7 linked regions of the Homo sapiens genome follow. The protein of the gene in region 7 purifies or fractionates together with the protein of the main gene of each other region. This does not show direct contact. Each region holds a gene or a part of one and is shown on either strand. Other genes may lie near its edges. The genes, in order: SH3GLB2, MAP4K1, SOS2, ERC1, ASAP1, SOS1 and LRRK1.

Region 1 (3,500 bases), on a different chromosome or scaffold from region 7:
GCGTGGCCGGCCCGTGTGGCCCCCATGCTGCTTAGGAAGTCCCCGTCCAGGAGCACTGGAAGTTGCTGTGAGAGCCAACTAGGGTTGGCGGCCTGAGGGACAGTCACCCAGCCACAGAACGACGGCACGGAAGACATGAGGCAGCATGCTCACGAGAGAGGTGAGGGTCTCACCTCCAGGGGCGGGAAGGAGAGAAAGTGGGCAGACAAGGTGTAGCAGTGGTGACAAGCATGAGGGAGAGGTGTGGCCTAGTCCCCAAACTACATAGGAAACACCAGACTTCCCAAGAAAGCCTAAAAACCAACAGACACCATGACATGCGAAGCCTCCACGATCCTGTCCTCCCCACCTCCTGCCCCAACTCCCCTGGGGGCCCTGCCTAAGCCTCAGGACAAGACATGCCCTGCTCCAGGACCTCTGGGCCTTAAGCACAGCCTCAGGCCCTCCCGCCCCCCAGGCGCTCTCCAGGCCTACGACGCCATCCCTGCCTCCTGTCTTTAGGGGTCTGTGAACTCCAGAAAGGCACGGCCAGGCCTCCTCCTCTATCCTCAGGGCCTCCCCAGGGCCTGGCATTCAGAGACAGCAGGAGGTGGAGGGGCCCTGGGGATGGGACAGCTGCCGCCCTGAGTTCTCCACACTACTCAGTGTGGCTGGCCCTGCCGCCAGCTCCAGCGTTTTGCAGAGGGAAACAAGTCCAGCTCCATGGCCACAGGGCACCGGGGCCAGGCCGTGGACAGAGGTGGGGGCTGCTGCCCCTCCCCAGTGTCTCAGGACTGACCTGATCACATGGCAGTGCCCCCGCCTTACCCAAGCTGGCTTCTAGCTCCTGTGCAGTCAGAGGCAGTGGTGTGGGACGTGGGGAGAGAGGAGGACGAGGGGTGGGGTGGGGGTGGGGTGCGCTTACCGCGGAGGCGCTGGCCGAGAGAATGTAATTACGAGGTCTAGTCTCCTGAAAGTCAGGCACCGTCTGGCGGGGAACAGAGTTCATGTGGGGAGGGGGTCACCCTGGGCCAGGGCCAGGGTCGAGGTCAGGAGGCTACCCCAGAGTCTTGCACAAGGAGATGCCAAGAGGCCTGACCCCAGGGACGGGGATACAAACACAACACAAACCCCCTTCTCCCGACTCCAACCACCTGGAGATGAGGGGCCTAGGGACTTGGAGAGTCCAGACAAAGATCAAGTGGCTGCAGGCACTGGAGCTCAGGAGAGCAAATGCGGTGAGGAGATGGCCGAGGCTGCCTGAGCAAGTCACAGGCTGGGCTCTCCCCTGCCAGGGGCCACAGCCCCCTCCTCCCCAGACCAGTGGCACTCAGATGCCCCAGGGTCCCGCAAACACAGCCCACCCCCAACTGGGATGGCTTTTTCCATCCCAGAATCCGCACACCACATCTCTTGCTCCTGCATCAAGGGCCAGGCCCCTCCCGACAATGAAGGTGGACAGATGGATGCATGGGCAGACAGAGTGACAGGCGTCCAACATTTGCAAAAAGCTGACTCACAGGCCCCAACGCCTGGCATCCCCCCCTAAACCAGAGGCCCTGCACAGTAGAGGCTCTGGCGGGGAGACCAGCTGCTTGCAAAATGCCCCAAGGACGTGGGCTGGCCATGGCACCGTGGGTCCACGGGCAAGATGGGCAGACCGGAAGCAGCACAGCGCGTGGGACAGGTATACTCACATCTCCCTCACACTGAGCCAAGTTACCCAAAGCAGGACGGAAAGGAACAAAAACAAAGAGTTAGTGAGTCCACAGCGCAGGCAGGAGCAGGCCCCCCAGGCCCCAGTGGGAGGGGACACCAGGCGGTCGGGCGGAGGGAGGCACCACAGCCTGCCCTCCTGAAGAGTCCTAACGTGTGCGTGCTTATGGGGACAGAGCTGTGGAGCTTGAGTCCTCTGGAATGCTGTTCCTGGGGCTGCCCAAGTCCTAGCTCTGGAAAGGTGGCCTGGCCCAACCCCAGGATGTGAGGTTGTCCAGGCCCACCAGGTGAGGGAGAGGCCACACCACTGCAATGACAGGAAAGGCTCCTCTGGCCTGGCTGATGGAGAGAGTGTGTTCTGGCTGAGTTACTCCAGAGACGGTGTCTGGCCCGAAGTGACGGGGGAGACTGTCCTGTTCAGGTGCCTTAGAAGAGGTCATCCCAATAGGCACAGGTCACCCTAGCCAACCCCAAGATTGAAACAACTACACCCCTGCCTCTGATCTAGACCCCACACACTTGAGTGACCTGAGACGGTTCTCGCCAGGGGCAGTGCTGGCTCTGGGGCCACACTATGGGAGGGGAACGCAAGGTGCATGGGCAGCTGTGAGCCCAGGCTAGGCCTGGCCTCCCTCGGCTAATCAGCTGGCAGCCACAGGTAGCCATCTCCCTAGTAGGCCTGGGCCTGGGAGTTCCCTCTGCAAGGTATGAGGCAGCCTTTAGGCCTGGCAGCCCTGAGCAACCTCTTGTGCCAGGAGGGTGTTCACCCTTGGGCCCAGCTCCTCCAATCCTGGCCTCGCCCTGGGCACACTGTCCCAGGCTGCGTCCCATTGACCCAGCCAGGCTGAACAGGCCTCAGTGAGCTGGGAGTGAAGGGGGCGCCAGATGGCCCAGGCCCTATCCAATCTCATGGGACCCCTCGGACACGGCCCTGAGCAAGCGGGCGGTCCAGCTCCCAGGTTTTCCACACCATCGTGGGGGCGCCTGAGCACAGGGACCCTCGGCCTGACGTTCAAGCAGCAAGTAGTAGAGTTAGTAAGAAGGTGCCATGCCCGGGCAGAGCCGGGGACAGAGCCGAGCATCTAGGAGGGCAGGGCAGGGCATGCAGGAGACTCCAGCTGCCTGGCGGGGTGGTGCACCCAGCTGGGGGCACTGCTGGTCCGCCCACACCGTAGATATCTCCCTGGGAACCAGAGCTCGGGGGCCACCAAGGCTCCCTTGAGGGCAGGGACAGAGAGGCTCAGCCCAGCAGCCCCCAGCCAGGCATCTCCAGCCAGGGAGAGGGGAGAGAGGTCATGCCAAATACCAGGTCCCTTCATGCCACCACCCCTTGGCTCCAGCCAGAGCCTGGGCCAGGAGGCCAGCGGGGAGCGGGGACACCTACCGTGGCTTTGGCTTCTGCAGCCTTGGCCTTCTTCAGCCTCGCTTTGCAGGCATCCAAGTCCAGACGCCGGTTTTGGAGGAGCCGCCTCTCCTTCTACAGGGCAGGGCATGGGGACAGTGAGACCCTGGGCTGCCCTGGGAGACCCTGAGCCATGCATGGCAAGATTGGTGCCGGGGACGATCAAGTCAAGATAGGGAAACTGAGGCCCAGAGATAGGAGGTCACTCAGTCCAAAGGAGCCCTCTCTGGGGAGGCCTCAGGAGTTTTGTAGCCCCAGCACTGGAAGAGAGCCTGTACTCAAAGGCTCTGAGGAGGGAACTGCCATGGTTACCAGGAAGCGGAATAGTCCCAGGGCCCTCACCGAGATGGTCTTCCAGTCCCCCTCCAGGAAGTTGCGCAAGGGTGTGAGGAAGCTGATGGAG
Region 2 (3,407 bases), on a different chromosome or scaffold from region 7:
TCCCAGCTACTCTGGAGACTGAGGTGGAGAATCGCTTGAGCCAGGAGGCTGTAGTGAGCTGTGATTGTCGCCACTGCACTCCAGCCTGGGCAACAGAGCAACACCCTGTCTAAAAATATATATATATATATGTCTCAAGGGTTTGAAGATGTGACCAATGAACTCTTTCTATCCCCAATCCTAGGAGTCTTATGTCTGGAAGATGTACCAAGAGAGATGTTGGGATTTCTTCCCAGCTGGTGATTGTTTCCGTAAGCAGTATGAGGACCAGCTTAGCTGACACACCCCCAGCTGGCCCTCCACCCCCACCTCAAGTGCCTTATTCTCACAGCAAGCCCCTTAGTCCCCAAGCCCCTCCCCCTAAGGCAGCTGGGGGAGAGGTGACCTAGTACTGGAAAATAAATCTGTGCTACGCCCCCCAGCATCACTGTGTTGGCCTGCTGAAATTTTGGAGGAGTGGACATCCAGGAATTGTTTCCCCCAAGAAAAACAAGATGACAGCAGAGGCTAAAGTCATGTTTATTGGGAGATGAGGACATGCCATGACCACTAGTGTGTCTATGGGGGAGGGGGTGCAAGGACTAGTTCCTGACACCCCCCTAGGGACTCATTCCTGGATGTAGAGGTTGCTGGGAGCAGTAGGATCATCCACTGGGCGTGTCTCCACCACTACAGGCCTGTGGAAGGAAGAGATAAGTCAGTTCATTTATTCATTCATATGTTCATTGATTCATTAATTCACAAAGTAGTTAATAGAGACTGTGCCAGCCCCATGCTGAACTATAGCAGTGAATGGGCAGACACGGTCCCTGCCCTTAGGAAGCTTGCATTCTAGAGAAGGAGATCAACATGAATCAGTGAATTACATGAGTGCAAAAAAGCATGGCATGTCTGGCAGGGAAACCTAACCCAGGAGGTCAGCCCAGACTCCCCAGAGAATGGATGGTGCAGCCTGAAGGGGGGTTAGGAGGGAACTTGGTGAAAGGGCAAGGAAGAGTGTTCTGGCTGGGGAGAACAGCCTGTGCAAAGGATTTGAGGTGGGAGAAAGGCTGGGACTTGGCTGGAGATGTCATGGCCTTGTGGGCTGTGGCCAGGATTGAGTCTTTATCTTGAGGCCATGGGAGGATTTTAAGCAGGGAGACAGTGACACGATCAGATTTGGATTTAAAGTGACCCTTCTGGCATGTCAAAAGGACACAGGGGCTACTTAAAGTGGTTCCCACTGGCTAAATTTAAGACCATTTGTGCCTCAAAATAAATAATGACAAGGCCGGGCATGGTGGCTCATGCTTGTAATCCCAGCACTTTGGGAGGCCAAGGGGGGCAGATCACTTGAGGTCAGGAGTTCAAGACCAGCCTGGCCAATATGGTGAATCCCATCTCTACTAAAACTACAAAAATTATCCAGGTCCATCCTGGCTAACACGGTGAAACCCCATCTCTACTAAAAATACAAAAAAAAATTAGCCAGGTGTGGTGGCAGGCACTATAGTCCCAGCTACTCGGGAGGCTGAGGCAGGAGAATGGCGTGAACCTGGGAGCCAGAGCTTGCAGTGAGCCGAGATAGCGCCAGTGCACTCCAGCCTGGGCGACAGAGCGAGCCTCTGTCTCAAAAAAAAAAAAAAAAATTTATCCAGGCATGGTGGTGCACGCCTGTAATCCCAGCTATTCGGGAGGCTGAGGCAGGAGGATCGATTGAACCTGGGAGGCAGAGGTTGCAGTGAGCTGAGATCACACCACTGCACTCCAGCCTGGGTGACAGAGCGAGACTCCATCTCATAAATAAATAAATAAATAATGACAGTAATAGACTATAACCCACAGAATAAAAATCCATGAGACCATGCTGGTATAAAGAAAGAAGAATGGAGAAGACACAGCTCTTCTTTAGAGTAGAATGCCAACTAACACACGCAGAAGGAAACATAGAATCAGAAAATCACCATTTATTGTTAGTAGCCACCTAACAATAATAGATTCAGGGAAAAATCAATTGATTCTAAAACTAGTGGGCAGGCCAGGTGCGTTGGCTCAAACCTGTAATCCCAGCTACTCGGGAGGCTGAGGCAGGAGAATTGCTTGAACCTGGGAGGAGGAGGTTGCAGTGAGGCGAGATCGTGCCACTGCACTCCAGCCTGGGGGACAGAGTGAGACTCTGACTCAAAACAACAACAAAAGACAAACAAAAAACAATAAAACTAGTGGGTGAAAATCTGATGAGAAACAACGTATTTACAGACTATTTACCTCGTCTCAGTGAATCTCCCCAAAAGATACTTCTTTTTTTTTTTTTGAGACAGAGTTCACTCTTGTTGCCCAGGCTGGAGTGCAATGGCGCGATCTCGGCTCACTGCAACCTCCGCCTCCCGGGTTCAAGCGCTTCTCCTGCCTCAGCCTCCCGAGTAGCTGGGATTACAGGCATGCAACACCATGCCCGGCTAATTTTGTATTTTTAGTAGAGACAGGGTTTCTCCACATTGGTCAGGCTGGTCTCAAACTCCCGACCTCAGGTGATCCACCTGCCTCGGCCTCCCAAAGTGCTGGGATTACAGGCGTGAGCCACCGCGCCCGACCGGTGGGATACTTCTTATTACAAAGAAAAACAGAGGCTGGGTGCGGTGACCCCTGCCTATAAGCCCAGCACTTTGGGAAGCCTACACAGGTGAATCTCTTGAGTCCAGGAGTTCCAGACCAGGCTAAGTAACATGGCGAAACCCTGTCTGTACAAAAAATACGAAAATAAGCCAGGTGTAGTGGTACGCGCCTGTCATCCCAGCTACCCGGGAGGTTGAGGTGGGAGGACTGATTGAACCCAGGAGGTCGAGGCTGCAGTGAGCCATGATCGCGTCACTGCACTCCAGCCAGGGTGACAGAGAGAGAATCTATCTTTAAAAAAAAAGAAAAAGGGAGAAAAAAGCAACTTCACAGTGGAGAGAACTGGCTGATTCTACCTTAACCAAATGACCGAAGTTAATATCACCAGTAATGGGACAAACTAGCATTGTGTACTTCCTGAAATGATGCACTGAGAAAGACATCTTTCTGCAGTATTCCTGCCCAAAATTCAGAACGTGGAAACCTCAAACACAGTTAAGGGACATTTTAGAAAACAAATTTCCTTTAATTTTTAAAAAGGTCAAAGCTCCTTTAAGACAAAAGAAGTTTTAATTATTTTTTCCGGCTTAATTATAAAGAAACATGGCTCCTAAGTGCCACCTATGATCTTGGACCAGAAAAAAAAAAAAAAAAAAAAAATATATATATATATATATATATATATATATATATATATATATAATCACGGGCGTCACTAGGACAACGGGTGAAATTTTTTGTTGTTGTTGTTGTTGTTTTCTGAGACAGAGTCTCGCTCTGTCACCCAGGCTGGAGTGCAGTGGCGTAATCTC
Region 3 (3,500 bases), on a different chromosome or scaffold from region 7:
TTCCATGCAAATGTAAATGAACATGTATCAATTATTTTGATTCAGCCCATTGATGAGGGAACTAGTAAGATGTTAAAGTCACTTAATATGAAAATTTGAGGAGGTATTTATAGGCAATTTAATAAGGGAATATTAAGACTGTTGGGTTACATACAGAATTAGTTAATACCCTACAAGAAACATAAAAGAGTAGGCTTTGGGTTATATTTTCCTCTGGCTAAAAATTACTTGCATCTCAGTGGGCGTGGTGGCTCACACCTGTAATCCAGCACTCTGGGAGGCTGAGGCTGGTGGATCAACTGAGTTTAGGAGTTCGTGACCAGCCTGGCCAGCATGGTGAAACCCCGTCTCTACTAAAAAATACCAAAAATTAGCTGGGTGTGGTGGTGTGTGCCTGTAATCCCAGCTGCTCAGGAGGCTGAGGCAGGAGAATCACTTGAACCTGCTAGGCAGAGGTTGCAGTGAGCCGAGATCACACCACTGCACTCCATCCTGGGCGACAGAGCGAGACTCCATCTCAAAAAAAAAAAAAAAATTACTTGCATCTCTATCTGCTGAAAAGCTGTAACTTAATCTTATAGATGTGTAAAATAGTCAGTAGAAATTAATAAAAGATTCAAGCATAGCACTGTACTGAAACACAGCCAGTATTCTTTTGCTTATTTTCCAGTTTTGGCTAGTTTTTATGAAAACTGGATATCTATGTCTATATCCATGTATATATCCATATATACCCATATATAGATCCATATATATATGTATTTGACAAAGTCACCATTGTCAACATTGAAAATTCAAGGGATTTTTAAAAAACCAATCTCAAGTATTCATTGCATTACATAGAAACACAGAGATGGGCTGGGCGCAGTGGCTCATGCCTGTAATCCCATTTGGGAGGCCAAGGCGGGCAGATTACCTGAGGTCAGGAGATCGAGACCATGCTGGCTAACACGGTGAAACCCCATCTCTACTAAAAATACAGAAAAAAACCCAAAAAATTAGCCGGGCGTGGTGGCGGACGCCTGTAGTCCCAGCTACTCGGGAGGCTGAGGCAGGAGAATGGTATGAACCCAGAAGGTGGAGCTTGCAGTTGAGCCGAGATCGCGCCACTGCACTCCAGCATGGGCGATGGAGTAAGACTCTGTCTCAAAAAAAAAAAATACCAAAATTAGCCAAGTGTGGTGGTGCATGCCTGTGATCCCAGCTACTCGGGAGGCTGAGGCAGAGAATCTCTTGAACATGGGAGGCAGAGGTTAGAGTGGGCTGAGATCGCACCACTGCACTCCAGCCTGGGCGACAGAGCGAGACTCTGTCTCAAAAAAAAAAAAAAAGAAAGAAAGAAAGAAAAAGAAACACAGAGATAGACAAATAGGTTTATGGAAAAATAATTTTGGGAATAGAAATGTGGTGTTCTTTAGCTTTTTGCTTGTTCTTAAACTTTTAAAATAGAACCTCACCTAGATCATTTAAAAACAGAGAGCTACAAAGCAGAGTGAAATGACACTACTAATGGATAATGCATGGATTGTTAACATTACTGCTAAATTATGTATCTTCCCTAAAAGAGCCTAGAACATAATTGCCTTCACCACTGCTCCCCAAGATCATTGAAGCTATTGTGTTACTTGGGGAAAAAAGAGCATGGTGTATATTTGTAAATGCAGTTTATTACCTGTGTCGTTGAAATCCCTTGGTACTATATGCATGTGTTATTTGATTATATGTTGAGATAAATCAGCATTCTTCATATGGGAAATATGCCTCAAAATCATTTTATCAGATTTTACAGTCCCTGATATTTATTTTGTAGATGTCTTTTCTGTAAGGTGTTTTTCACCAGGCTAGCCATAGAAAAGAACATGGCTGTTTTCTTGCCAGCTGTAGTTAAAAATGTCAGAGAAAGCTAGAAAGAATTGGTTGAATTACTTTGTTCCTGAGTCCAATTAGATTCAGGTTAAATATCGACCTCCCCACCCTGTGACAATTTGCTCTTAGATATCTAAAAGGCAAGAGGTGTGAGAGAATGTCTGGGTTAATTAATAGCAGTCTACGGCAAGGAAAAAGATCGGTAGGGGCTTTGATTTAAAAATGGTTTTGTGAAGTTCTACTGAGATCCTAGTGTTTCTGCGTTTGTACAAATGTCTCTTGGAAGTTTGTTTTAGAAGATGGCACTGGATCTTTCCTGAGGCCCACAAGAAAAGTACAGGGTGATCTGAGAAAATATAACTGGTGTCATTGATATATGAGAGTCAAAGAAGACTTTAAGCAAGCAACATTTGTGCTTCTTTCTGGATTATATATTCAAATATAGTAATATTACTGTCTCCAGGCTGGTCTTGAACTCCTGGGCTCAAGCGATCCTCCCACCTTGGCCTCCAAAAATGCTGGGATTACAGGTGTAAGCTACGTCGCCTGGCTGCAGACACTGTTCTTGATACGGAAGATGTAGCAGAGCCCCTGCTGTTATAAAGCTTGTGTTCTAAGTGGCTGTGGCAGAGAGACAGACAATAAGGAAGTAAACAATTATCTGAAAGATCAGTAGAATTAACAAGAAAAAAAAAGGGCGGGGGGGAAGGATTTGAGGCTGAGGGGAAAGTAAGAACATGATTTGTTTGTTTGTTTGTTTTGAATAGGTCTCAGATTCTGAATTTAATGACTTATTTTAAAAAACAAGAAGAATAAGTGGATGAAGCTAGTATGGTAGACTGTAGGTACACTGAGTTAAGGTCTCTGCCTGAGAATAGGAAGTCCTGTTGGGTTCTCATTTACATAGCAAAGTAATTAGATTAACTTGATCAGAATTGCTTTTTGAAAAGATTACTTCAAGTCAAAGCCAAAAACTAATAAGAGATCCTGTGATTTTTGTGACATGAGCCTGTTCTGGAATTCCTAAAGCCGCTGAATGTAACAGTAGAACTCGAGGGAGTCATTTGGAATTATTCCAAACTAATAATGACCCAAACTGACCCGAAGAGTTCAGCCAGAACTAGATGAGCGGTAGGAATGTACTTTAACTTGCTGTACTTGGCTCCCTGTCAGCAATGATTAAGTAGCCTTCTATTTTTGGTTTAATTTTGGTATGGTATATTTGGAGCAATAATATTCCATTAAAGTGTTTTATGCTGAGTATTCAAAGCATTACCTGTGTTACCCCTTGACATAAATCAACTATATGTCTTTTGTATTAACCATGGACTCTCTTTCAAGGGAACAGTAATTTGATTATATCCTGCATATTTGAATCAAAAGGAATTTTAATGTAACTAGTGGATTTAGCATTATCTCATGTTAAAAATTAACAACCAAAAATTATTTTCTTCCATGGGCCAGGTGCAGTAGCTCATGCCTGTAATCCTAGTACTTTGGGAGGCTGAGATGGGAGGATTGCTTGAGGCCAGGAGTTCAAGACCAACCTGGCCAACATAGCGAGACCCCATGTCCATAAAAAATTATTTTCTTCTTTTACATAAGAATATATGCTAGTACAAAGTTTTTTCAAA
Region 4 (3,500 bases), on a different chromosome or scaffold from region 7:
ATTAGCCAGGCAAGGTGGCAAGCACCGGCAGTGTGGCTCACGCCTGTAATCCCAGCACTTTGGGAGGCCGAGGTGAGCAGATCACCTGAGGTCAGGAGTTTGAGACCAGCCTAGCCAACATGGTGAAACTCCATCTCTACTAAAAACAAAAATTAGCCAGGCGTGGTTGCCCATACCTGTAATCTCAGCTACTTGGGAGGCTGAGGCAGGAGAATCGCTTGAACCTGGGAGGTGCCGTGAGACGAGATCGCATCACTGCACTCCAGTCTGGGCAAAACTCCATCTCAAAAAAACAAACAAACAAAAAAGTTAATTAAAAATAAATAAATACACAAATAATGGCTTCAAGAAAGAATTCCTTCAAAAGGTAAGTTATATTCCTACAGTAAAATTATGTTTAAGGTCTGAATTTTATTTCTTGAGAAGTTTTTACAATTTCAGACACTTAATTTTTTTTGTTTTAAGACAGAATCTTGCTCTGTCACCAGGCTGGGTGCAATGGCGTGATTTTGGCTCACTGCAACCTGTGCGTCCCAGGTTCAAGCGATTCTCTCACCTCAGCTTCCCAAATAGCTAGGACTACAGGCACACACCACCACACCCAGCTAATTTTTGTATTTTTAGTAGAGACGGGGTTTCACCATGTTGGCCAGGATGGCAGAGACACTTAATTTAAGTTCACACAAATTTTCATCCCAAAATTTTCATCCCATTGGGTTATTTTTTTTTTTTTTTCTGAGACAGGGTCTCGCTCTGTCATCCAGACTGGAGTGCAGTGGTGTAATCCCAGTTCACTGCAACCTCCGCCTCCAGGGTTCAAGGAATTCTCATGCCTCAGCCTCCAGAGTGGCTGTGATTACAGGCGTGCACCACCACACCCAGCTAATTTTTTTATTTTTTAGTAGAGATGGGGTTTCGCCACGTTGCTCAGGCTGGTCTTGAACTCCTGGCCTCAAGTGATCCACCCACCTCAGTCTGCCAAAGTGCTAGGATTACAGGCGTGAGCCACTGTGCCTGGCCTGATTATCTTATTTCCATGCAAAAGGGCTTCCAAACATAAATGCATTAACAATGAGAAAAAATGAAACTAATATATACAAAAGGGCTGTCACATAAAAATTATCTATTCATCACTTAGCACACCATAATAAAGTTAAAAAGAATACAGGTGTTTAGTTTCATTCTTTGGTGAACAACTAAAAATGACTGTTCAAGAGTTGCCACCTTTCTGAAGCACAGCCCTGATCATGCATCTCCTACTCAGAAATCTTCAATAGCTACACACGCAGTATCTCAAGATTGGAAGGAATCTTAAAAATCACCTAGCGGGCTGGGCACAGTGGCTCACGCCTGTAATCCCAGCACTCTGGGAGGCCAAGACAGGCGGATCACCTGAGGTCAGGAGTTTGAGACCAGCCTGACCAACATGGAGAAATCCCGTCTCTACTAAAAATACAAAATTAGCTGGCCGTGGTGGTGCACGCCTATAATCCCATCTACTCGGGAGGCTGAGGCAGGGGAATCGTTTGAACCCGGGAGGCGGAGGTTGCACCATTGCACTCCAGCCTGGCGACAGAGTGAAACTCCATCTCAAAAAAAAAAAAAAAAAAAAATCACCTAGCACCAGGTTCAATGCTTGCAACCTGGCAGAGGATGCACTACCTCATAGAAACATTCACACCATCACTGAACAGCCATGGCTCTAGAAAAATAAAAAGCAATAGTAAAATGGAAGGTGGAGGAGAGGGAGAAATCAAGAACACCACACACATTTCCGGCTTAAGCACCCAGTGGTGTCATTTAACAAATTAAGAAACACCAGAGGAAGTGTAGGAATCATACATTCCGTTCTGGATGTGTTCGGTTTAAGGGGCATCCAAATGGAAACATTCAGTAGCAATTCGATAGAGTGGTCCTCAGACTCAGGAGAGAGGTAAAAACTGAAGACATAAAAATGAATACTCAGCACACAGATGAAAAATGAAATAGAAAGCGATGAGAAAGCCCAAAGAAATTCAAACATTTAATAAATGAGCACAGAAAGACTCAAAAGGTGACTGAGAGGCCAGGCACGGTGGCTCACGCCTATAATCCCAACACTTTGGGAGGCCAAGGCAGACAGATCACCTGAGGCCAGGAGTTCGAGACCAGCCTGGCCAACATGGTGAAACCCCATCTCTACTAAAAATACAAAAATTAGCTGGGTGTGGTGGTGCACACCTGTAATCCCAGCTACTCAAGAGGCTAAGGCAGGAGAATCACTTGAACCCAGGAGGCGGAGGTTGCAGTGAGCCAAGATTGTGCCACTGCACCCCAGCCTGGGCGATAGAGCAAGACTCTGCCTCAAAAAAAAAAAAAAAAAAAAAAAAGTGACAGAGAAAGAGCCCAGAGAACCAGCAAGAAAAACAGAAAAGTGCTCTGAAGACCTCAAGAGAAGAGAGAGCTTTACAAAGGAAGGAGGGGTATCCGCTCTGTCAAATGCTGCTGTGGTAGACAGTCCTGAAATGGCTATGAGTGATCTCTGCCTCCCAGCATTCATGCAATTGTGAAATCCTGCCTTGAGTGCACTGGACCTAGTGACTGGCTGATAACAGAATACAACAAAAGTGATACCACATCACTTCCAAGATAAGGTTACAAAAAGATTCTGGCTAATATCTGTCCTCTTTTGAAGACAGAAGCACTGAGATATCATATTTTAAGTAGTCGTACGCAGAAACCCAAATGGCAAGGGACTCACCTCTCCAGCAAGCAGCCAACAAGGACCTCAGGCCTGCCAATTGCCGCATGAGTGAGCTTGGAAACAGCCTCCCCAAGTAGCGCTTTGAGATGACTGCAGCCTTGTGAGAGACCCTGAATCATAGGTGCCAACTGCACCCACATTCCTGATCTACAAAATCTGTGAAACAATAAATGTTTCTTAAGTTAGGGGGTAATTTGTTATATAGCCAATAGAAACTAGCACAGCTGCTAAGAGGTTAAATAAGAACAGGATAGTAAAATAGACATTGGCTATTTTCATACATATTTTCACTAGCTATTTTCAGTTTCACTGAAATAATGGCGATAGAAACAAGACAGAAATAGGTTGAGAAGTCACAGGTGAAGAAATGGAGATACACAGCAAATGCAGAAAACTCTTAAGTGTGTAAAGCAGAGAGCAACTTAGAGCAATAAAGTATAAATCTGGAGTTTTTTATTAAGATGAAGAGACATTTTAAAGTTTAAATGATGATAACAAGCCAATAGGGTGGAAAAATACACTCTCATGGAACTTCATTCTTTTATCAAGAAACTCCTCTAAAAGTCTTCAACTTCCTTGGGAAATGTTCTTGCTACCTCTCTGCCTTAACTGAAAGCTGACTTTCCAATCAGGACACCTCTTCTCATATAGTCCTTTTAAGTGAAAGCTACTCAGTCTCTTCCACTCCACACCCAATACTGGGAAATGAGGCTGGTACCTTCCTTCCTGCCAGTGCCAGTTCCAGACCACTATTCCC
Region 5 (4,071 bases), on a different chromosome or scaffold from region 7:
GGTAACTGGCTTACAGGCCAATGCAGCAGACAATAAAATTGCCATTCGCCACCATCAGTCTCAAACTTTCACAGTATTCTTCCTCCACGGTAACCAGAAAACAAGTGATAGTACATAGCAGCCTTTTTTTTTTTTTTTTACTGGCTAGAACAACACTTTACTCACAAAGAGAAGAGACAGAACAAGATTAGCTTTGATTTGAGTATGGTACCCCGCAGTGGGTCTTGCCAGGCAGCTGACACAGCTTAATGGTCTGTATGCATCCTACCTGGGCTGTGGGCAAAGAAACCCCTTCCTTCCCAACTAGGAATAGGTAATAGTACTGGGATTGGCCAGGTGCCATAGCAGCCTTTTCATTTGCTTTTTTTTTTTTTTTTCTTTTTTAAATGTATCACACAAGCCTGGAGAGAAGGGATTTTCTTTAGCCCCACTTAACAGAGAAAAGGCTTAGCAAGGTTTGTGTGAGGTCACCCAGCTGTAAAGGCAGCCAGGCGCCCTGGTTCAGAGCAAGGACTCTAGAGCCCCACGCCTGTGGGAGAGCATGTCACCTCTCTGGGCCACTGTCCCTTCATCTGTAAAATGAAGATTGTAAACTGTATAAGAAATATCCACCTCAGGGGGTTGCTGTGTGGGTACAGCAAGATCCATGTAGAATGCTGAGCATATTGGAAGTTCTGTCGTTTGCTCTTTCCTTATGTAGTTTATGACCGTTAAGCTCTCTGTAGTTCACTAAAGGGTGGGAAGAAGGGTAAGCCTGGGATTCCACCGCCAGGTCTGTGGGCAGACTAGGCTGGGCTCTTACCCACTGGGTTTGTCGTGGGGCCACTGCCTGCTGCCTCCATCCTGACCACTCTCTTTTCTCCCTGCAGATTGGCCACATCGAAGGACAGCCTGAAAGGAAGGGGGTCTTTCCAGTGTCCTTTGTTCATATCCTGTCTGACTAGCAAAACGCAGAACCTTAAGATTGTCCACATCCTTCATGCAAGACTGCTGCCTTCATGTAACCCTGGGCACAGTGTGTATATAGCTGCTGTTACAGAGTAAGAAACTCATGGAAGGGCCACCTCAGGAGGGGGATATAATGTGTGTTGTAAATATCCTGTGGTTTTCTGCCTTCACCAGTATGAGGGTAGCCTCGGACCCGGCGCGCCTTACTGGTTTGCCAAAGCCATCCTTGGCATCTAGCACTTACATCTCTCTATGCTGTTCTACAAGCAAACAAACAAAAATAGGAGTATAGGAACTGCTGGCTTTGCAAATAGAAGTGGTCTCCAGCAACCGTTGAAAGGCATAGAATTGACTCTGTTCCTAACAATGCAGTATTCTCAATTGTGTTACTGAAAATGCAACATTAGCAAAGAGGTGGGTTCTGTTTTCCAGGTGAAACTTTTAGCTCCATGACAGACCAGCCTGTAGTTATCTGTGTACACAGTTTACAGCTACAAAAACCTACTTTGGTATTTATTACAGAAAAGTGCTCAGTTAAATGTAAGTGTTATTCCTTCAGCAAAATATTCACTGACCCAAAACTCTTTATGGCATTTTACAATGCACACAGCCTCATGCAAGTTTAGACAAGTGGATTTATACTGTCTTATGAGTGCCCGCCCCTGATATATTACCTCATTATGCAAAAATAACATATCTTTCATGACTATTTTGACAAAAGTTTAAAACACATATGAAGTTCAAATTTCAGGAACCAAGGACTGCCAGAAAATATTAGCCTCTACATTACGCATGCATTTAGAAGCTTACCTGAAATCTGCCTTTTATAAAGGAATAGTATGGATAAGTGGAATTGTACATTTTTTAAACTTGATTGCCATTAAAGCAGAAATTATAAGGTTGCAACAATATTTGTTTCTAATCACTGGCTTTCTCAAGAGTATGGATTGACATATTGTGTTATGAATGCACATCTCTCAGATGTGTTGAAGCATCCATTGCATCCATTTTTTATTATTTTCTTAGTTTTGTTCTTGGACAAATTTAAACTTTTAAAAGATTATTCAAGATGAATTTAAAAGTCAACCCTTCACACAGTTTCCCTACTGTATGTAGAATCCAGGTGCTGAAACCAAGTGTTTCTTTTCCCATGCTCTTTGTTAAACCCCAATTATAGATAATTTTTCCAGTCTTAAGCTCTGTCCACCTTCAAGTCAATTCATAACCAAGTTTTTGAACGCTGCTATGAATTGCACTGTGAAAAGCACTCTTCCCTCTCAGTTTTCTTTTCATCCCAGCCATGTTTATCAGATCCTTAAGAACATTGTATTTCAGTCTTTTACATCAGTCTGAATTTTGGAAAAGAATGCAATAGTTGTACTCCACAGTCAGTGGAACTGTTCCCTGAGTCCGAGGCTCATGTGTCATTCTGGCACTACATTTGCTTAAATTGCTATTTTGGCAACAGCACAGAAAACTAATATTTTTAAGCAGAGAATCTTGGCAATGAGTGAGAGATGTTAATTTCACAGAAGCACAACTCCCAACCCAACCCTTAGGAAAAGCCCTCTTCCATCGTTACAGTGCTCAGTGAATATTAATTTAGTTCTGCTTAAGTGGTTGCTATACAAACTTTGAATAGCCACCTAATAAATAAACCTTGCATGACAAACCTGCAAAATATTTTATCAGCTGTTATTGGAAAGTGATTTTAAGCAATTGCTTCCTCAGTGTCAGGGCACATGTGAATTTCCACACCAAACAGAGCATGAGGAACCAGTTGACATGCTGGGTTGTGACTGGCAGCTTTAGCAGCCTCGGTACTGAAGCCACACCAGTGTCCGGATGGAAGTCTGCATCTGAGGTTGCTCAGTGTCCCGGTCATTCATTTACACATTTTAACTTGCATTAAAGAGCTGTTCTTTTCTGTGGCCTAGACTCTTTTCACTGATCTCAAAATAAACTGGTTTTTTTCAAAAAAAAAAAAAAAACAAAAACAAAAAAAAAACACAAAAGCTGCATGTCTAAAATTACATGGAGTTAGTGTCTATTCTTTTTCCCCTTTTGCAGCAACTTACACAGCATTTTTAACACCTTTTTTTTCTAGTTTTTTTGTTCGGTTTTGTTTTCCATCAGGAATTTGAGTTCTCTCTAACCCAGCTTACTGTGGGACATAGGAAAACTCAGTAGAAATACCTTTGGTGATCTTGTTGAGTTTAAGTCTGATCTTGATCTTAAACTCAGTAAGCCACTATCTGCAATTTTGTACATTATATAGTATTTTGAAGATATGGAACCTTATGAAAAAAAAATAGCAAATTAGTTCTTTTTCCCCCAGAGGGGAAAGTTATGTTCTGCAAATAGTGTGTGTCTTATTTTACTGTTGAACAGCAATTGCTATTTATTTTTTTATTGCCTAGAACTTCAACATGTTGTATAGGAATCCTGTAGTGCCACTAGTTAAATGCCGAATTCTCATCTGGATGTTACCATCAAACATCAGTACACTTGTCATTTCACATGTGTTTAATGTGACAGTTTTTCAGTACTGTATGTGTTAATTTCTACTTTTTTTAATATTTAAAATTGCTTTTAAATAAACATATTCTCAGTTGATCCCAAACTTCTGAAATCAGGCCATTTTGTGAGTTGTTCACTACCCTGCTGACAGGAGAGAATCAAGGCTTCCTCTGGCTGTGCTTTCGGGTATATAGATGACACAGGTCACTCCAACCCTTGTCAGAGATCACTCTGGATACATAAAAATATGTGGCACTTGCCCCGGCTTACAAACTGTGGGCCTTCGGCCCCTTTCTGTCCTCCACCTTCCGCATTCCACCTCCACCACGTCCACTTGTGCGCCCGTTGATGTGAACAGGGCAAGAAGAGGGTGGAGGGGCACGAGGCTTACATGTTGTCGTGTGGACAGCACTTCTGTCACGTAGCTGTCACAACTAGTGCTGCCACGCAGTGGAGCAGACCTGGCCCAGGCACTCTGCCTGCATTAACCCCTGAATCCTTAGCAAGCCCAGGAGAAGCGTGAGCCCCTCAGCTTTACAGAGCTGACAAATGAGGCTCAGAGGCATTCATTCACACACAGGAGACATGTGGCTTGTAAATCAC
Region 6 (3,500 bases), on a different chromosome or scaffold from region 7:
TAAAAAGAGTACTTTGTGTACTGATATTATTTAAATGATCAACATTTTGATCACCTACCTTTTTTCTTAAGAATATAGTTAATTCAGCTTGTAACTAGTATTTTCCATTGTACATATTTTGAAATTGTATGAAAGGACAGCAAAAAAATATTAGCTTAAATAATTAAAATAATGGAATTTAGTGACTTGTTAGTTTACCTTACAATTAAAATGGAACTTTATTTTGTTTATCAGTATTTAGGCTATACTTTGAATAATTACAATTATAAGAAAGTTCTTCTAAAGTCAAAAGCAGTTGTCTATAATCTATCCTGCCATCAGGCTAAGTATATTTTGTGATTTAGAAACTGCATGTAGCTGCCAGCATTCCCATATGCGCATGCATGCTCTTGCCTTTTTTTTTTTTTCAAAGTTGAGCATTAAAATATACTTAGAACTCTATAGTTGGAAAAAAGAAATGGTTAAATGTGGAAGCCACTTATTTAATATGTTCTTTTAAGAGAGAAACAAGGTTTTATAAAAAGCATGAGAAATATATAAATTTAAGCAAATCACTTATGATCTAAAGATAGCACAAGTGAAGGCCTCACTTCTAGGATGTTGCAAGCAAGGTACCAATGCTGCCAGACCCAAGAAGAGTTTTAGCAGGAAAGGTTACACTTGGTTTGATTTTTAAAGCCAAAGCAAGAATTATGAGTCTTAAACCAAATATACTAACTTGGGCCATGGGGCAGAGTAACTTGGATAAAGACGGTATCATTGCCTGTGAAAGGAAACAAGAAAAAGTAGATTTTTTTCTTTCATTGATATATTCAACTCATCTGCAAAAATTTGTATTATGATGAAAATGTTATTGTCATTGTCGTTTTAAAGAATGCTGTAACAGTTTATAGTAAAACCTCATTACTACTTACTTTTGAGAAGAAAAAAATGATATCATATTGGGAATTTAAGATTCCTTTTAGCTTTACTTGATTTCATAATTATTAAATGAAAAACATTCATAAAAAAATCGTATATTACTGAAAGACTTTTTAAAATGTAGAAACCCAATTCAAGCAAAAAGTTCAGCTGGATGTATATAAATATGCCATTTAGTAAATATTATTTTGAAAACTCAAACTTGTGAAACAAGTAATAAGTTTATTTTATGTAAGTTGAAAAATAAAAAAGTTACTAATTATATGTCTTTCAAAAATGTTCTTGGGGCATATATTCTCATCACAAAATAACTAGCACTTTGGATATAAAACAAGCTTGAAATTGATACAGGGTTTTTCCTTTTATAGTCATAAACATTTTTTTTAAAGTCATTAAACATTTGGTGCCTAGACTCATTTTACATAGGAAATTCTGATAAATTTAAATTTAGAAAGTCTAATTTCAACAATATTAATTATTTTAAGGAAAAAACTGAAAATCAAAAGCGAAAGCCCCAAGAGCATTAAAGTAGGAAAATTGAGACAAAAAGCTAGGTGATCTATACTGATTCTAAATCAATATAGTTGTTTGTTTGTACAGTGTCTCATATTAACAACAGATGGAACAGATAACGTTATAACATCCAAGAGACTAAAATAATACTAGACTGTGGTAATTTTTTTTAAATTCAGATTTCGTTTTTTTTTTTTTGCACAATAGGCAATCCCTCACATAATTTGGAATATTAAGTTTATTCAAGCATATTTGGTCAGAAGGAGGGTGATCTCACATTCCAGATTTCTAGGCAGCCCTAATTTCAAATAATCTGTCCCATTATCTGATTTCCGTATGTACTGATATTTATTTGGAACCTATGATTCCTAAGTGTAGCAATCCAGCTAATTCTAATATTACCTTTCAGAAGATTAAAATTCATTTTTCTACTCTGAAATTACATGAAGCTGTTGCTCTGCCGATGATTTTCTTCCCTATTAGCCACCTATAATTGAAGATTGCCTGGTTGTAAAAGGGAGCCAGAGATCTGACGTAATAGAGATTAAAGGAGTATCTAGCTCTAGCGTTTACCCTACTTATATATGTCCCACTTTTCCTGGAAAAGAAATAAACATATCTCCTGGAGATATGCCTCAAGAACATGATAGTACACTTAATACAATACAGGAATAGGAGTAAAATCAAAACACAAGCTCATGACTGTTACAACTATAGTCTTTAATTGTACATATGCATGCACACTTGTGTACACAGATGTAAACTTGGCTTTGAGTATATTTATATATAGCACAGGCTTAGACTCATGCATTTGGTAAATTTGGGGCACTAGTTGTCTTATTGCCTGGAAAATACTATAGAAATTCTTTTAGAATTTTACATGCACTAATCAAGAAATATATGCTAGAAATTCTTGTCAGTTAGATACTGAGTAAATTTACTGATAATGACTTAGAAGTGAAATCTAATTAATTTAAAAAACAGTATTAATTTATTAAGCATAATCCCAGATGACAGACAAATGGTCCTCAATCTTGGCTGTACATTAGAATCCTATGGGAAGTTTTTAAAAAATACTGATACCAGGTACCAATGCCAGTCTAGTGTGGGCTGGGCCTACATATTTTTTTTAAGCTCCTCAACAGATGATACTATACAGTCAGGGTTGAAACCACTCTTAAAGATACTCCCCAGTTTATAAAGGAGTCATTCTTGATAGAAACAAGCATTTTTCTATAGAAAAAAAAAAAAAGATATGATAGATAACTTCTTAAACTCACAAAAGCCTGGTAAATGCAAATATATTTGGGATTAGAAACTCATCACCTACAGCAATCTTCCAGGAGGAAAAGCCTTGCGTTATCAGCTTGACATACTTGTAATACATTCTTTTTGTTGTTAAAGAGTCCCCTAAGGGATGGAAATGGAGAAGTCAGACCTCTGACTCCCTTTTATGACCAGGCAATCTTCAAACAGGAAGGTAAAAAGAGCATTTCATCATTTTCTCCTCTCTATTATAGCAGCAGAAACAAGTAGTGAGCCAGTGGTCTTTTCTCTTTTCTCAGCAACTGTCGTCATCACCTCAAAGGTGGACCTGGCCAGGGCAAGGTGTGGAGCAGGGCTTTGAATGTATGTGTGGCAGCACTAAGTACGTGGCCACTTCTCTGCCCTGTCTTTGCCACAACGCTTTCCATGACCACTCTTGCTCATTCTGAGGTCATCTTTCTATAAGCTTCTCCAGTATTTATGTCTTTACCACTATTTTTAGCGTTTAACTGTGAATCTCTTTGCACTATGATTATTTTTAATCTCTCAGTAAGACTGCAAGCTTTCCCAGTGAAGACGTGTAAGTGTTTAGCAAGGAATAAGATATGCAGCAGATACTGGCTGAAATAATTAATTATAGGTTTTTAAAAGTAGATTATTTTGGGAAAAAACCGTAAGAGTAAAAAAAGAATAGTATAGTATTATAACTGATAAAAAAAAATTCTAGTCAAACTCTGCCTTTTGAAAAACTTAAACAATGGAACTTTGTACTGCTTTGAGTGGAATATGTTGGGATGACA
Region 7 (3,500 bases):
TCGGGGACTCAGGAGCCTGTGGAATGTGCTGAGAGCCTGAGGTCTCTGGCGGGGAAAGGGCAGGGGTCACAGCCCCCCTCCTGCCCTACCTCAAGTGCTTCCCAGCGGAGGGCCTCTAGTGTAATTCCATCTGAGACCTGGGGATGGCAGGAAGGCCCGGCCCTGCTTTGTTTGACCCAGCTCAGAACAGGATCCTGCACCCCTGCTCCTGCAAACTGATGGGGGAGGCCAGAGGAGGCCGCTCCCAGCCTGATACCACTGTCTTCCCTGGGGCTGTAAAATCAGCAGTTGGGGGATGGGGTATTCAGAGAACTCTGCTCCAGAGAACCAGAGAACCCTGGAGCCACCGCCAGGCGAGTAACTTCTCAGCACTTCTTAGCAGCAAGGAGTTCAGGGGAGAACTCCATCTGTCTTCTAGGTCCTTGGAGAACTAGAGGCCGATGGCAGAGGGGTCAGGCTGCAGCCCCGGGCCAGCCAGCTCTGATGTGTGACAGTCATTCCACAGGAATTACCTTCTCTTGCGAGTGCAAGCCTCCAGCCGGCCCAGCTCCTCGTAGGACTGGTAGAAAATGTCGAACTCCCTGGCGCCCCAGCCCCTCCAGACGGCCAGGCACCACTCTGTGTTTTCATTTTCAAAGGTGCACACAACAGTGTCCTTTGCCACCACGGCAGCATCCACCAGCACCCTGCAGAGAGAAGGGGGTCTGAGGAAACTCACAGGGGTTCCCACTCGGGTGGGGTTGGGACCCTCCCCCTGTGCCTTCTGAGGAAGGCGGAGCTGGCTAAGGGCAGGGGAGTGTGTCTGCTTGCCAGCCCTCTCTGGGGTGTGCTGAGATGCACCACTTCTCCCCAGTGGCCAGCCTGTGGGCTTAGGCTTTATAAAGTCCAAAGACGGGCTGTGGGCATGAGTTCGCGTCCATGGGCTTTGTCTGTAAGAGTCAGACTCCCTGGAAGGCCACAGAGGCAATCAGATCATGCATCCTTGACTCAGCTCCCAAAGCGTCCAGAAAACACCACTGACCCAAATTTCTGCTTGTGAATGGCTCATGACCGAGTTTAACTCAACTCCCTTGCCACTAAGCTCAGTAAGATTCTTCTCTCATTCTGTTTCTACAGGCTTAGGAAATACAGGATCATATATTAAATGGAAAACCTACTGCCCCAAAGTCATCACTATATACATTTTTTGAAACTGTGGACAGTTTTGCAGGATCGGTGGGTGTGTGCTACAGGTTTCCTTTTGGGCCACAGTGTGGCCTCCCTGCCCTGGTGGTGCCCCACCCCAAGCACATACTAATTGCCTTTCCTCCCTCTGTGTCCCGTGTGTGCGGCCTGCGTGGCACTGAGGTGCTCCTGCAAACTGGGATGTCCAGGGACCTCTCACTCCGCGTGGCCTTGCCAGGACCTCCCCTTAGGGGAGGAGCCTCCCTCTAGCGAGAAAGAGGTAAAATCTGGCTTTAGGGATGAATAGGAGAAAAACAACAGCTAAACGTTAGGACATTAATGGCAGGTATGCCAAGGTCCTAACCTGGGTGCTGCACACCCATTTCCTCCAGAAGCCCGACCTGCAAGCTGGGAACTCCATCAGTTCAAGGCTTCTACCCACAGGCTCTGCCAGAGCTCAGGAGCAGATCCAGATCTTGCTTCCAGAACCACTTACAGAGTAAGGGTCACTGGCCCAGGACTCACTGCAAAAGTTCAAAGCTGGCAGGCAAGGGAGTGCGACTGCCAAGGATGTCCTTGTCATTGTCCTGCTTTGGGAGAAGCAAGCTGACTGGTGTTTCTCCACCCTCTTATGCTCCAGATGAAATAAAAACCCACTTGCCCAGGGATGGGGGATAACTCATGCTGCAGGGAAACAGGCCTAGTGTGAAATGGAAGAGCTCCAAAGTACACACACACACACACACACACACACACACACACACACACACATTTGAACTGAGGACTTTTCGTAGGGGAGATTTACCGTGTGGGGCTCGGTAGTCAAAGTGCGGGGTGTAAACACTGTGGGGAGCTGCAGCTGGCGCCAGCCTCACATCACTGCAACCATGTAGACCATGTCCCGGACAGGCCACCCTGCCCAGCATACCTTCACAGAGGAGACTGGCATAATCCTGGGGGTCCCCACCCACAGACAGGTACTGAGCTATGTCTCAGCCCAGGAAGGGCAGGAGCTGAGACCCCAGGCTTGGAGATGACAAGGTGTGCCTGTGTCATCTGTCCCCATAGGGTGCTGTGTGGGCTGGTGGACACCTCGGGTAGGGTTTCCTGCTTGGCAGGAAGAACAGTGAATCAATGACCTGGATGCATCTGCATGTCGATTGCAGCTGAACTCTGGCCCTGGAGACATTCGTTAGGTAGGGTACTAGGTAGGGTACTTGATCTACAGGTGCACTGGGTACTCCAGAAACAGGCAGCCATGGCCAGTGCGGAGCCCCTAGGAGCTGTCTGAGGGGCCCCATCTTGTTTCCACTTTGCCTTACAGCCACGTTAGTGGCTATGCTATTTGGGAGAATGGAAGGGCAGCAAAGCCACTGTGCAGGACCTGGCTGCAGGGCCTTCTGTGCTCATGCTGCTGCCTGGGTCCTAAAGGAGCTGCCACTCAGTCTTACCCATGCGGAGTCAGCTCTCGGGCTTTTAAGACGGCAATGACTCGGCCCCGCTGGGCGCCAGAATCCTTCTCCAGGCCAATGACGATAACATCTCCACCGCGCCTAAGCAACCAAAACCCAGAAGGGGAAGCGATTTGTCGGTAGCCGTGCTCTCCGGGGAGTGAAGCCGGTGTGCAGAAAGGTGCGGGAGGGAGGCAACAGACATGCAGTTTCTGCTAAGGGATTAAGTTATGGGGAGGGGACAGACTTCAAAGCAGAGGAGAATTTTCTCAGTGGAAACTGAGTCACAGTTGACTGTGGCTTTCCTTGTGTGGCACCTTAAGCTCTCTGGCAGGCAATAAGCTTTTGTGCGGCCACTCTTAGATTTGCTAAAGCGATCGCTTCCATTCCCAATGGAGGAAACCAACCCTCTTGGAAGAACAGCACCTGCCTCCCCACATGACCTGTAAGGAAGCCAGGGGGCTTCCCCTTGCTCTGTCCCCAGAGCAGGAGCAGTGGGCGTGCCCTGGATGGTGCCCTCACCTCGGGAAACGTACCTGGGGACCCAAATGAGGTCTCTGACGGCGAGGATCTTCACGGCCTGCAGGTGCTGGCTGAAGGTCTCCCCGTCCATGGGGGTCAGGTCATGCTCAGACCTGTCGGAGGCAGCACCGGGCGTATGTAGCATGTCTGAGTCCTCGCAGTCGGTGGAGAAAGGCACACTGGAAGAACTTGCTGGGGAGCTGGGGAGGCTTGAGGGGGACCTGGCAGCCTGGCGGGGTGGGGATGAGGAGTAGGAGGACATGGAGCAGTAGTCAGTGAGTGATTCCTGGTGGATCAGGATCTGCGTGCCCAGCTCCTCACTGTACATGATGCTCACGTCCGCGATGGAGTCCCCCTCAGGCA

Evidence for each region.
Region 1: the proteins of LRRK1 (region 7) and SH3GLB2 purify together in Homo sapiens (affinity purification with mass spectrometry; one large-scale study listed by BioGRID and IntAct). This does not show direct contact.
Region 2: the proteins of LRRK1 (region 7) and MAP4K1 purify together in Homo sapiens (affinity purification with mass spectrometry, with the first as the bait; one study listed by BioGRID). This does not show direct contact.
Region 3: the proteins of LRRK1 (region 7) and SOS2 purify together in Homo sapiens (affinity purification with mass spectrometry, with the first as the bait; one study listed by BioGRID). This does not show direct contact.
Region 4: the proteins of LRRK1 (region 7) and ERC1 purify together in Homo sapiens (affinity purification with mass spectrometry; one large-scale study listed by BioGRID and IntAct). This does not show direct contact.
Region 5: the proteins of LRRK1 (region 7) and ASAP1 purify together in Homo sapiens (affinity purification with mass spectrometry, with the first as the bait; one study listed by BioGRID). This does not show direct contact.
Region 6: the proteins of LRRK1 (region 7) and SOS1 purify together in Homo sapiens (affinity purification with mass spectrometry, with the first as the bait; one study listed by BioGRID). This does not show direct contact.

Annotation. Positions count from the first base shown.
Region 1 is NC_000009.12:129,011,332-129,014,831, forward strand, and holds part of SH3GLB2 (endophilin-B2), read right to left. Parts: coding exon 3,440-3,500; intron 3,173-3,439; coding exon 3,080-3,172; intron 1,689-3,079; coding exon of another isoform or gene 1,677-1,688; intron 968-1,676; coding exon 905-967; intron 1-904.
Region 2 is NC_000019.10:38,587,141-38,590,547, forward strand, and holds the end of MAP4K1 (mitogen-activated protein kinase kinase kinase kinase 1), read right to left. Parts: intron 2,136-3,407; coding exon of another isoform or gene 2,038-2,135; intron 678-2,037; coding exon 608-677; 3' UTR 501-607; downstream 1-500. Other genes in the region: RYR1 (ryanodine receptor 1), read left to right, coding at 185-280. UniProt on the Homo sapiens protein: Serine/threonine-protein kinase, which plays a role in the response to environmental stress. Appears to act upstream of the JUN N-terminal pathway.
Region 3 is NC_000014.9:50,225,079-50,228,578, reverse strand, and holds part of SOS2 (son of sevenless homolog 2), read left to right. Parts: intron 1-3,500.
Region 4 is NC_000012.12:997,723-1,001,222, reverse strand, and holds part of ERC1 (ELKS/Rab6-interacting/CAST family member 1), read right to left. Parts: intron 1-3,500. UniProt on the Homo sapiens protein: Regulatory subunit of the IKK complex. Probably recruits IkappaBalpha/NFKBIA to the complex. May be involved in the organization of the cytomatrix at the nerve terminals active zone (CAZ) which regulates neurotransmitter release.
Region 5 is NC_000008.11:130,051,604-130,055,674, reverse strand, and holds the end of ASAP1 (arf-GAP with SH3 domain, ANK repeat and PH domain-containing protein 1), read left to right. Parts: intron 1-869; coding exon 870-944; 3' UTR 945-3,571; downstream 3,572-4,071. UniProt on the Homo sapiens protein: Possesses phosphatidylinositol 4,5-bisphosphate-dependent GTPase-activating protein activity for ARF1 (ADP ribosylation factor 1) and ARF5 and a lesser activity towards ARF6.
Region 6 is NC_000002.12:38,988,552-38,992,051, forward strand, and holds part of SOS1 (son of sevenless homolog 1), read right to left. Parts: intron 764-3,500; coding exon 719-763; intron 1-718.
Region 7 is NC_000015.10:101,065,857-101,069,356, reverse strand, and holds part of LRRK1 (leucine-rich repeat serine/threonine-protein kinase 1), read right to left. Parts: coding exon 3,152-3,500; intron 2,718-3,151; coding exon 2,616-2,717; intron 687-2,615; coding exon 509-686; 3' UTR 1-508.